Linked DNA regions of Homo sapiens: region 2 is linked to region 1. The links come from fine-mapping of genetic effects on gene expression. A gene starts in region 1. The other region holds a variant in brackets. All regions are shown on one strand. Distances are between the middles of the regions.

The links. PIP is the estimated chance that this variant, and not a neighbour inherited with it, causes the effect.
Region 2: its variant is the best candidate, but not a certain one, in a credible set for the expression of ZSCAN21 in Th1 cells (Schmiedel 2018, PIP 0.51).

The regions. Positions count from the first base shown.
Region 1 is chr7:100,047,229-100,052,602 of GRCh38, reverse strand. ZSCAN21 (zinc finger and SCAN domain containing 21) reads right to left here and starts at 2,829. Exons shown (of 4, transcript NM_145914.3): 1 at 2,762-2,829. RefSeq lists an enhancer at 2,308-2,927.
Region 2 is chr7:100,079,751-100,085,097 of GRCh38, reverse strand. It overlaps ZNF3 (zinc finger protein 3), which reads left to right and starts at 3,375. Exons shown (of 6, transcript NM_032924.5): 1 at 3,375-3,463. RefSeq lists a silencer at 2,967-3,046 and enhancers at 2,149-3,130, 3,287-3,436. The variant AG/G (reference allele first, on the strand shown) is at 1,915.

The DNA of each region.
Region 1 (5,374 bases):
AGTAAGACATCTCAACCTTAACATGTCCAAAATGGAATTCCCATCTCTCCCTCAAAAGCTGCTCATCTCAGCTAATGGCAACTCTCATTGTTCTTTTTACTTGGACCGAAAAACCTGGGGTCATCCCGAATCCTCTTTCACTTTTTTTTTTTAATTTAATTTTTTTATTTTTTAGAGACAGTGTCTTAGCCTGTTGCCTAGACTGGAGTGCAGTGGCACAATCACAGCTCACGGAAGTCTTGAACTCCTAGTCTCAAGCCATCTTCTTGCCTTGGTCTCTCAAAGTTCTGGGGTTACAGGCGTGAACCACTTCACTGGGTCTTTATTTTATTGTTTTTCAATTACAGAGGCAGGGTCTCGCTTTGTTGCCCAGGCTGGCGTGTAGTGGTGCCATGACAGCTCACTGCAGCGTTGAACTCCTGGCCTCAAGCGATCCTCTCACCTCAGCCTCCAAAGTAGCCAGGACTACAGGTGTGCATCACCACATCTAGCTAATTAAAAAAAATTTATTTATTGATTTACTTATTTTTGTAGAAACGAAGTCTTGCTTTGTTGCCCAGGCTGAGGCATAACTTGAGCTCAGGAGTTCCGGGCTGCAGAGTTGTGGCTGTACCACTGTGCTCCAGCCTGGGTGACAAAGGAAAACCCTGTCTCTTAAAAAAATAAAGAAGCATGCGGCTAGAAATCAAATGCTTCATTACTAACTCACATTGTCTACAATCACAGTGACTTTTTAAAAGCTATCTAGACTGTTTATCTCAAGAAGTCCATCAAGCAAAAGTTCATGGTCTATCATAAACAGAAGGCCCTTGTTCTGTGTCCATTTTCCCTCCTCCTTTATGCCAATCTCCCACAGCTTATATGCCCTTATGAAAGCGCCCCAAGTCCATTCTGTAACAAGATGAGGCATAAAAAAATCAAATTACCATAGATTCTAAAAGTAGAACAGCACTTACCCACTTGTGCTAAAATGCTTCACACTCAGTCCGTACCTGAAAATCCCTAGGGGGCCCGGCGCCGTGGCTCACACCTGTAATTCCAGCACTTTGGGAGGCCCGAGGCGGGCAGATCACGAGGTCAGGAGATCGAGACCATTCTGGCTAACACGGTGAAACCCCGTCTCTACTAAAAAATACAAAAAATTAGCCAGGCGTTGTGGCGGGCGCCTGTAGTCCCAGCTACTTGGGAGGCTGAGGCAGGAGAATGGCTAGAACCCGGGAGGCGGAGCTTGCAGTGAGCCGAGATCGCGCCACTGCATTCCAACCTAGGCGACAGAGCGAGACTCCATCTCAAAAAAAAAAAAAAAAAAAAAAAAAAAAAGAAAATCCCTAGATCCCTAGGCAGCCAAATTAGATAATTCTTGAGCCACAGAATTCCACTAATTGTTACAAGTTCTTCCTTTTTTTTTTTTTTTTTTTTTTTTTGAGACGTAGTTTCACTCTTGTTTCCCAGGCTGGAGTGCAATGGCGCGATCTCGGCTCACCGCAACCTCTGCCTCCCAGGTTCAAGCGATTCTCCTGCCTCAGCCTCCTTACAGGCATGTGCCACCACGCCCGCCTAATTTTGTATTTGTAGTAGAGACGGGGTTTCTCCATGTTGGTCAGGCTGGTCTCGAACTCCCGACCTCAGGTGATGCACTCGCCTCGGCCTCCCAAAGTGCTGGATTACAGGCATGAGCCACCGCGCCCGGCCACACAAATTCTTTAACCTGAATCAAATTCCGCATCATTTCAAAAATCCTAGGTTAGTCCAAGACCAATACTCACTTTCTCCATAGCAGCCTTCCAACACTTGAAAACAATTATCTTGCCTCTTAATTCTTTTCCTCTCCACAGCTCAACTGTTCCTTAGATTTCGTGGGTTTCCAAGTACCTCACCCATCAAATCAACGTTCTTTTTTTTTGTGAGACCAAGTGTTGCTCTGTCGCCCAGGCTGGAGTGCAGTGGCGTGATCTCGGTTCAGTGCAACCTCCACCTGGTGGGTTCAAGCGATTCTCCTGCCTCAGCCTCCTGAGTAGCTGGGATTACAGGCGCGCTCCACCACACCCAGCTAATTTTTGTATTTTTCGTGGGGACAGGGTTTGGCCAGGCTGGTCTCGAACTCCTGACCTCAAGTGATCCGCCGGCCTCGGCCTCCCGAACTGCTGGGATTACAGGCGTGAGCCACCGCGCCTGGCCCAAATCAACTTTGTCCTGACACTCTTTTATTTATACATGGTTCTTTAAGACTGTTTTTCTAAACCATGAGCAGATCCCTATTCTGTGTGTGTGTTCTAGCCCGAACAAAGCCCGAGGGGACTATTTCTTCCCTTGGATTTGATTCTACCCAACACTTCTAATGAGGTTCGGCTTCCCACAGGTTTCCAACACCTTGGGCGTATTGCCATCAATGAGCCTTGCGTTCGGACCTCCAGTTCAGAGAAAGGGAAAAAAGGCGGCCACGGTCAGACTGATAGACGGCTTGGCTTGGGGAACGCACAAAAAAAACTATTCTGGAACGCGAAAGAACTTCCAAAACATCTGTTCTTCCAGCTTTCATTTGTTAAAGCCCCAAGTGGAAGAAAAGGCTTTCCAGGCAGCCAGCGCCCCCACCAGCTGGTCCTGGGCGGGGACGAGGAGCTCCTCCCCACAGCCCTGCTAGGACCGGTCTAGGTGGGGTCCTCGGAAGCCACAGCTGCTAAACCCACTCCTCCCTCCCCAGACCATTCAGCCACGGCTCCCTCTCCTGTCCGCCTCGCTAACCCGCGACCAGCAGGCTCACCATGAATCAGAGCCGCTCCGGGTACCGGGAGACCGCACCGCGTACCTCGGGACCGCGCACCCGGAAGTGCGTCATAGCCCCGCCCCCGCGGAAAAGTAGTGCGGGGCCGTAGCGGCCCCTCTAGAAATTCGGGAGGTCCTCTCTGTGTCTCTGGCCCTTGGGACATCAGGGAGGAGTTGAGTCCACCCCGAAAATGAAAAGCCAGGGACTCTTTCTGTTTTTACCGAAGACGGTCAGACCAGATGAAGGCTGCGGCGGTTCTCTCACCCAACCCCGACGCCCTGGGGCAGGGAGGGCATGGGCTGAGGCAGCCACCTCGGTCACCCTCGTGGACTTCAGAGCCCAAGGTCCCTGAGTACCCTTGGGATAAGCACAGGGTTCCTTGTCCATAAACCTGGATCGAGGTCACTGGATACCCTTGGGCCCAGCTCCTCGGTCCAGGTTTATGGACATGGAACGCTGTGCTTGGCCCGTGAAGCCAGAGATTGAGTTAATACTTCGTTGATGAAAACAATCAAACTGTAAAATATTTGAAGACATTTATTTTGAGACAAATATGAGTGACCAATGGCCCAAGGTACAGTCTCAAGAGGTCCTAAGAACATGTACCTATGATGGTCGGGCTACAGCTTGGGTTTATACAATTTAGGGAGACATAAGACACCAATCAAGACATGTAAGATGAACATTGGTTCTGTGGGAAAGGCAGGACAATTCCAAGCGGGGATGTTCCAAGTCATAGGTGAACTCAAGGATCTTCTAATGGGCAACTGGCTGAAAGTTATTGTCTAAAGACCTATAATCAATAGAAAGGAATGTCTGGGATGACTAAGGCAGGGGTCCCCAACCCTTGGGGCACAGACAGATACCAGTCCATGGCCTGTTAGGAACTGGGCCGTTACTGCAGGAGGTGAGCTGCAGGAGCAAAGCTTCACCTGTATCTACAGCCACTCCCCATTGCTCTAATTACTGCCTGAGCTCCGCCTCCTGTCAGATCAGCCATAGCATTAGATTCTTACAGGAGCACAAACCCTATTGTGGACAGTGCATGCGAGGGATCTAGGTTGTGCACTCTTTATGAGAATCTAATACCTGATGATCTGTCGCTGTCTCCCATAATTCCCCAATGGAACCCTCTAATTACAGGAAAACAAACTCAGGGCTCCCACTAATTCTATGTTATGATGAGTTGTACAATTATTTCATGATATATTACAATGTAATAATAATAGAAATAAAGTACACAATAAATGTAATGTGCTTGAATCATCCTGAAACCACGAAACCATCCATCCCCCTCCTGCCATCCATGGAAAAAACTGTCTTCCACAAAACTGGTTCCTGGTGCCAAAAAAGGTTGGGGACCGCTGAACTAAGGGGTTGTGGAGACCAGGGTTCCCATTATGCAGATGGAGCCTCCAGGCAGCCGGCTTCAGAAAGAACAGACTGCAAATATTTCTTATCAGACTTTAAAAAGTGCCAGACGCCCAGTTGATTCTCTCCTGGATCAGGAAAAAGGCCTGGAAAGGGAAGGGGATTCTCTACCAAGTGTAGATTTTCCCCACGAGAAGACAGCTTGGTAGGGTTATTTCAAGATATGGCAAAAAAACATATTTGGGGTGGAAATATTTTCGTTTCCTTCTTTATCTGCCATGTGATGTTATGCCAGAGCCTGGTTGAAAAGTCAGCCAGGTTATATAAAGTTAAATAAAACCTGTCTGATGAGGCTTTATGGTTTGAAGGGGGTGACTCTCCAGGCCCCTTAGATAGTAATTTGGGCAAAAGAAGAAAACAGTCAGAGTTTAGTCCTCAACTTTGCAGACCAGGGTCATGGTGACATCAATCAGAAGTAGCCTTGCCCTTCTGTGGGTCCTAAACTTCCTGAGCAGAAGACCTAGGGGCTGAACTCCTTCCAATGCTGCAGGACTCGATGAAGATGTCTTTGCCTGCCTTTTCCTCCTGCTGCTCTGGCTCAGCTGCAGGTTTCCAGACTGAAGAGTCTGTATTTTCCACCTCAGCACTACTCCATCGGGCCCCCTGTGAGTTTGCTTTTGTCTGGTCCTGCAAAACTCACATGTGTTGAGGAACACCAATATGGCTGCCTGCACGTGGAATTCCCTGTCCATACGCGTCATGAATTCATAGATACTCAATATCATTTTTCCCTGACATTTTCCAGGATAATTTAAAAATTTTTTATGTTTAAAGACATGCAAAATTAGAGAAAATGAGCCTCCATGTGCATTCTTTTGTTTCTTTCTTTTTTTTTTTTGAGATGGAGTCTTACTCTGTCGCCAGGCTGGAGTGCAGTGGTGCAATCTAGGCTCACTGCAACCTCCGCCTCCTAGGTTCAAGCGATTCCTCTGCCTCAGCCTCCCGAGTAGCTGGGACTACAGGCGCGCACCACCACGCTCGGGTAATTTTTTATTTTTTTTTGTATTTTAGTAGAGACAGGGTTTCACCATGTTGGCCAGGATGGTCTTGATCTCCTGACCTCATGATCTGCCCGCCTCGCCCTCCCAAAGTGCTGGGATTACAGGTGTGAGCCACCGTGCCCGGCTGTTTCTTTACTTCTCTAATAAACTTGCTTTCTCTTAAAAAAAAAAAAAAATG
Region 2 (5,347 bases), 33 kb before region 1:
GATCGTTTGCACTGCTCTCTCACACATTAAAGAACTCCTTTGCCTTGTTGTTTCAGGTGCTTTTGAAACATTGTTCAGATAATTATACAGCTCATAAAACAAGAGATTATTGTGGAATTTAAGGATGACTTTGACATTGAATCAGTTGATTGTGCGCATTTTAGAACTAAGTTTGCTAAACGTTTCTTTTTTTTTGTTTTTGTTTTGTTTTGTGTTTGTTATTGTTGTTTTTGAGACAGAGTCTTGCTCTGTCACCCAGGCTGGAGTGCAGTGTTACAATCACAATTCAGTGCAGCCTCAACCTCCTGAACTCAAGTGACTGTCCCATCTCAGCCTCCCAAGTAGCTGGGACTGCAAATGCGTGCCACCACGCCAGGCTAAATTTTGTATTTTTTGTAGAGATAGAGTTTCGCCATATTTGTTTGTCTCAAAACAAACAAACAAACAAACCAAAAAAATATCCCCACCCCAAAAACAAAAACGAACAAAAAGCAAGTGCTCCTTTTTGGTATGGGTCAGTGGTTATCTATTCACCTATCAGTCATTAATTTAACAAATATTTGGGAGTGCCTACCAGGCAGCAGGTACATCACTAAACAAAACGAAGTCCTGACCTCATGGAGCTTATACCCTAGTTGTAGGAAACAGACCATAAACATACTTCAGGATACGTATATATATACAGAGATGGAGTATCCCTCTGTCGCTCCCAGGCTGGAGTGCAGTGGTGCGATCTCGGCTCACTGCAACCTCCACCTCCCAGGTTCAAGCCATTCTGCCACCTCAGTCTCCCAAGTAGCTGGGATTACAGGTGCCTGCCACCACTCCCGGCTAATTTTTGTTTTTGTATTTTTAGTAGAGGCAGGGTTTCACCATGTTGGCCAGGCTGGTCTCAAACTCCTGACCTCAGGTGATCTATCTGCCTCGGCCTCCCAAAGTGCTGGGATTACAGGCGTGAAGCACTGCACCCGGCCAACAAATTGAATTTTAAAGATTGAGTTGGCTTTATTAGGGATTCATGAACTGGCAGCACCCAGTCTACAAAACAGAAAGGAAGCCAGGTGTGATGGTGCGTGCCTGTGGTCCCAGCTACTCTGGAAGCTGAGGAGGGAGGATCGCCTGAGTCCAGGAGGTTGAGGCTGTAGTGAGGTAGGATCGCGCCACTGCACTCCAGCCTGGGTGACAGAGTGAGACCCTGTCTCTAAAAAAAAAAAAAAAAAAAAGACTTCATATGTTGAAGAAGGCAGAGGAAAGCATGAACATGATGAGGTGCTTTCCTTCTATTGATGGCTATTGTGATACCTCATTTCTTATCTTCTTAGTTTAAAAGGATTTAAGGCTGGGTGCAGTGGCTCACACCTGTAATCCCAACACTTTGGGAGGCTGAGGTGGGCGGATCCCTTGAGCTCAGGAGTTTGAGACCAGTCTGGGCAACATGGTGAAAACCCTCTGTCTCTACAAAAAAGTAGCCGGGCGTGGTGGCATGCATCTGGGGTTCCAGCTACTTGGGAGGCTGAGGTGGGAGGATCACTTGACCTTGTGAGGTGGAGGTTGCAGTGAGCCGAAATCACAACACTGCACTCCAGCCTGGGTGACAGAGTAAGACCCCCGTCTCAAAAGAAAAAAAAAATTTAAACAAGAAACACACAGGAGGCCGGGCGCGGTGGCTCACACCTGTAACCCCAGCACTTTGGGAGATTGAGGCGGCAGATCATTTGAGGTAAGGAGTTCGAGACAAGCCTGACCAACATGGTGAAACCTTGTCTCTACTAAAAATACACACAAATTAGCCGGGTATGGTATCACACGCCTGTAGTCCCAGCTACTTGGGAGGCTGAGGCACGAGAATCAGCCTGGGTGACAAGAGTGAGACTCCCTCTCAACAACAACAACAACAAAAAAAAAAAAAAAAAA[AG/G]GAAAAAGAATAAAAGAAACACATGTCAAAGGAAATCCAGCATAGAGTAATTTATTGCAAAAGGAAAATAGTATTTTGAAAGTTAAGTGCAGAGTAGACAGTACACCCTGGGAGAGAGAGAGATAGAGAGAGAGTTAGTTCAGGGAGGGCTGCTCCTAAGGATGAAACAGCAAAGGCTGGCTCTAGAGAGACCCCCTTTGTAAGGGGTCTTACACGATTATTCATAAGGGGGTGGGAGAAGTGTTACTAGTAAGTATGTTCTGGGTGGTCCTCTAGGTGCACATGCGCAGTGGGTGTACAGGCTTGTTCATACATTGCATGTTTCATTAGCATCTTAAATTTCCACCCAGGGGCGTGTTTTTTACCAAGATAATGAGCAAAGGGTCAGTTTGAGGACAGGTGAAATCAAAATGCGCATGCTCCCTACAGGGGAAAGTCCCTACTGGAGAGCGCTCAGCTTGAATGAGCTCAATTACAATGCGAATGCTGGGGCTTACTGTGTTGACTGCGGTCACCACGGTTGCCGCGTCTCCAGGACACGGTCACTTCCTTGACTATCCCCGCCTCGCTTCCACCTGTAGCTTCCTTTTTTTTTTTTTTGAGACAGTCTCACTCTGTGGCCAGCCTGGAGTACAGTGGTGCGATGTCGGCTCACTGCAACCTCCGCCTCCTGGGTTCAAGCGATTCTCCTGTCTCAGCCTCCAGAGTAGCTGGGATTACAGGCGTCTGCCACCACGCCCGGGTAATTTTTTTGTATTTTTAGTCGAGACGGGGTTTCGCCATGTTGGCCAGGCTGGTCTCGAACTCCTGACCTCAGGTGATCCGCCCGCCTCGGCCTCCTAAAGTGCTGGGATTACAGGCGTGAGCCTCCGCGCCCGGCCGGTAAGCTTCCTCTTCTCTGCTCTCATCACCTGTACACGGGTTTTTTCCTCATGTCAACTCTGTGATGGACTGGAATGTTTTCTTCAGATGTGGGTAATTTAAAGGGGGCATTTTTACAAGAAACAAAAAAAACTCGGTTTGTTCGGAGGCAAGTTTTAAATCAGGGTTCATTTTTTAATATTGATGAATCCTTCAATAATTGTATGTTTACTGCTGCCCTTCGCGAGCCAGCCTGAGAAGCGCGGGCTCGACATCCCCGCGCGCCCCCGCCGCCCGCCCCCAAGGCCGGCGACGCTGGAGCACATGTCCTGAGGCCCAGGACCGTGGTCGGCCGCTTTCGCACATTCGTGGCCAGCAGAGGGCGCAGCCGGCCAGCCCCCGCAGCGAAAGATCCCCGAGTGCCGCGTCAGCGATCGCGCTCCTTGCCCTCGCCGCCTGCCAGCCGCCCTGAGTCAGCAAACCACAGAGAGGCGAGGACCTCCCATTTTCCTAGACAGAACAAGTGGGCGTTGGGGGTACGGGTGAGTGGCAAGAACAACCGACCCGGAAGCGAAACGAGGGGGAACTTCCGTTCTTTGTTCTGTCCCCGGTGTGTGGGTCTGTGACAGGGTCCAACAGGGCCTGGTCCGTGTCCGGTCCCCCAAATCTGTCGTCCCTGCCCCCAGGGTGAGTCCACGCGTCCCCGGGTCTCGCGGTGAGACGGAGGCTGTGGTCGCCGGGGAAGGGGGTGGTGTCTGTGCCACTGCGGCCCGCAGGGTCCCCCGGCCGGCCCGGAGCAGGGTTCGGGGAGGCGCCCCTCCGTCCCCTGCAGCCCGTCCTCTACTCCGCTTCCCCAGGGATCCCCCTAGCCTAGCGGGATCCTGCGTAGGGGTTAGTAATGGGGCTCCGGTTCTGGTTTTGTGACTTTAACGGCGACCCAGCTGGAGCGTTTAAAAGTTTCAGCAGAGCGGTAGGGGCGCCTCTCTCTTGAAAGCAGCTAATGACAGCGACCCTAACTTGGTATTTCTCCCAGACGTTTTTATTTGATGTTAACACAGTTATTCGCGCCCGTGGCAGGAGAGGAAGTTTATTTTTACGCAGCTGGGTCCAAGGATCAGAGAAATTCTGCTAAGCGTACGCAGTTAGCACGAGGGCTGGGAGTGGGTGCAGACGCCGATTCCAGGGGTAATCCTGCTGGAGCCCAGTGCATCGCGTGATACACCTGGCTCAGGCTCCGTTTTCAGTTGTATTAGATTCCTGGTTTGATCCTCTCTCCGGAAGTGGGATTGAATCCACATCGGTGTTTACACTCTGAAGGGCTTTTGTAAACTCCAGGAGAAGATAGCAGAGTGATGAACCTGAAACCGATGGGCTAATTAGAGGAACGAGCGTATTATTTTCTCCAGAAAAGACATCTGTGGAGAGTGGGCATCATTTGATTATACGTGTTTGATGGACAGTCGGGTGGAAGGAGAAGATTCTGTTATTGAAGCTCTTTTTTTAAAAAAATTAATTTTTATTTATTTTTGAGACTGTCTCTGGAGTGCAGTGGCGCGATCTCGGCTCACTGCAACCTCCGCCTCCCGGTTCAAGCGCTTCTCCTGCTTCAGCCTCCCGAGTGGTTGGGACTACAGGCGCCCGCCACCACCTCCGGCGAATTTTTTGTATTTTTAGTAGAGACGGGGTTCCGCCCTTTTGGCCAGGCTGGTCTGCAACTCCTGGCCTCAAGTGATCCACCTGCCTTGGCCTCCCAAAGTGTTGGGATTACAGGCGTTAGCCACCGCGCCCGGCCTTTTTTTTTTTTTTCCTTTTAAAATGTTTGTGTGTGTATTAAGGTCTTGCTCTGTTGCCCCCGGCTGGAGTGCCGTGGTGCCATCATGGCTCACCATAGCCTGGAACTCCTGGGCTCAAGTAATCCTCCCACCTCAGCCTCCTAAAGTGCTGGGGTTACAGGCGTGAGCCACTGCAGGTCGCCAGTCATTGAATTTCTGTGATGCACTAGGTCTCTGTGCGGTGAAGGTCCAAGGAGATAGATTTTCAGCGAATCACCTGAAGACTTCTAATGGCTCAGCTGTGCAATGTGGATCCCCTGCTGAAGTAGTTCGGAGCACAGTGTCTAGCAAGTTAGCTGACAGAACGTTAGAACTTTCTTACCCTGGGTGGAGGTGGACCTGAGAACCTACCATTCCCTTTCATCTCTCCACGGGTGCAACGCAAATACTAGTTGTGGTGGTGGTCTTAATTGGTATTTATTAGCATATAATAAGTATTCTCTTTTTTTTCCTTTTCTTTAAATGTCTTGATTAGAAATGAAGTTTAGGCTGGACTCGGTGGCTCATGCCTGTAATCCCAGCACTTTGGGAGGCTGAGGTGGGAGAATCACTTGAGGCCAGGAGATTGAGACCAGCCTGAGCAACACAGTGAGGCTGCATTTCTACAAAAAGAATTTTAAAAAACTCAGCCAGATGTGGCAGTGCACACCTTTAGTCCCAGCTCCTTGGGAGGCTGAGCTGGGAGGATCACTTGAACTTAGGAGTTTGAGTCTGGAGTGAGCTCAAACTCACTGCACTC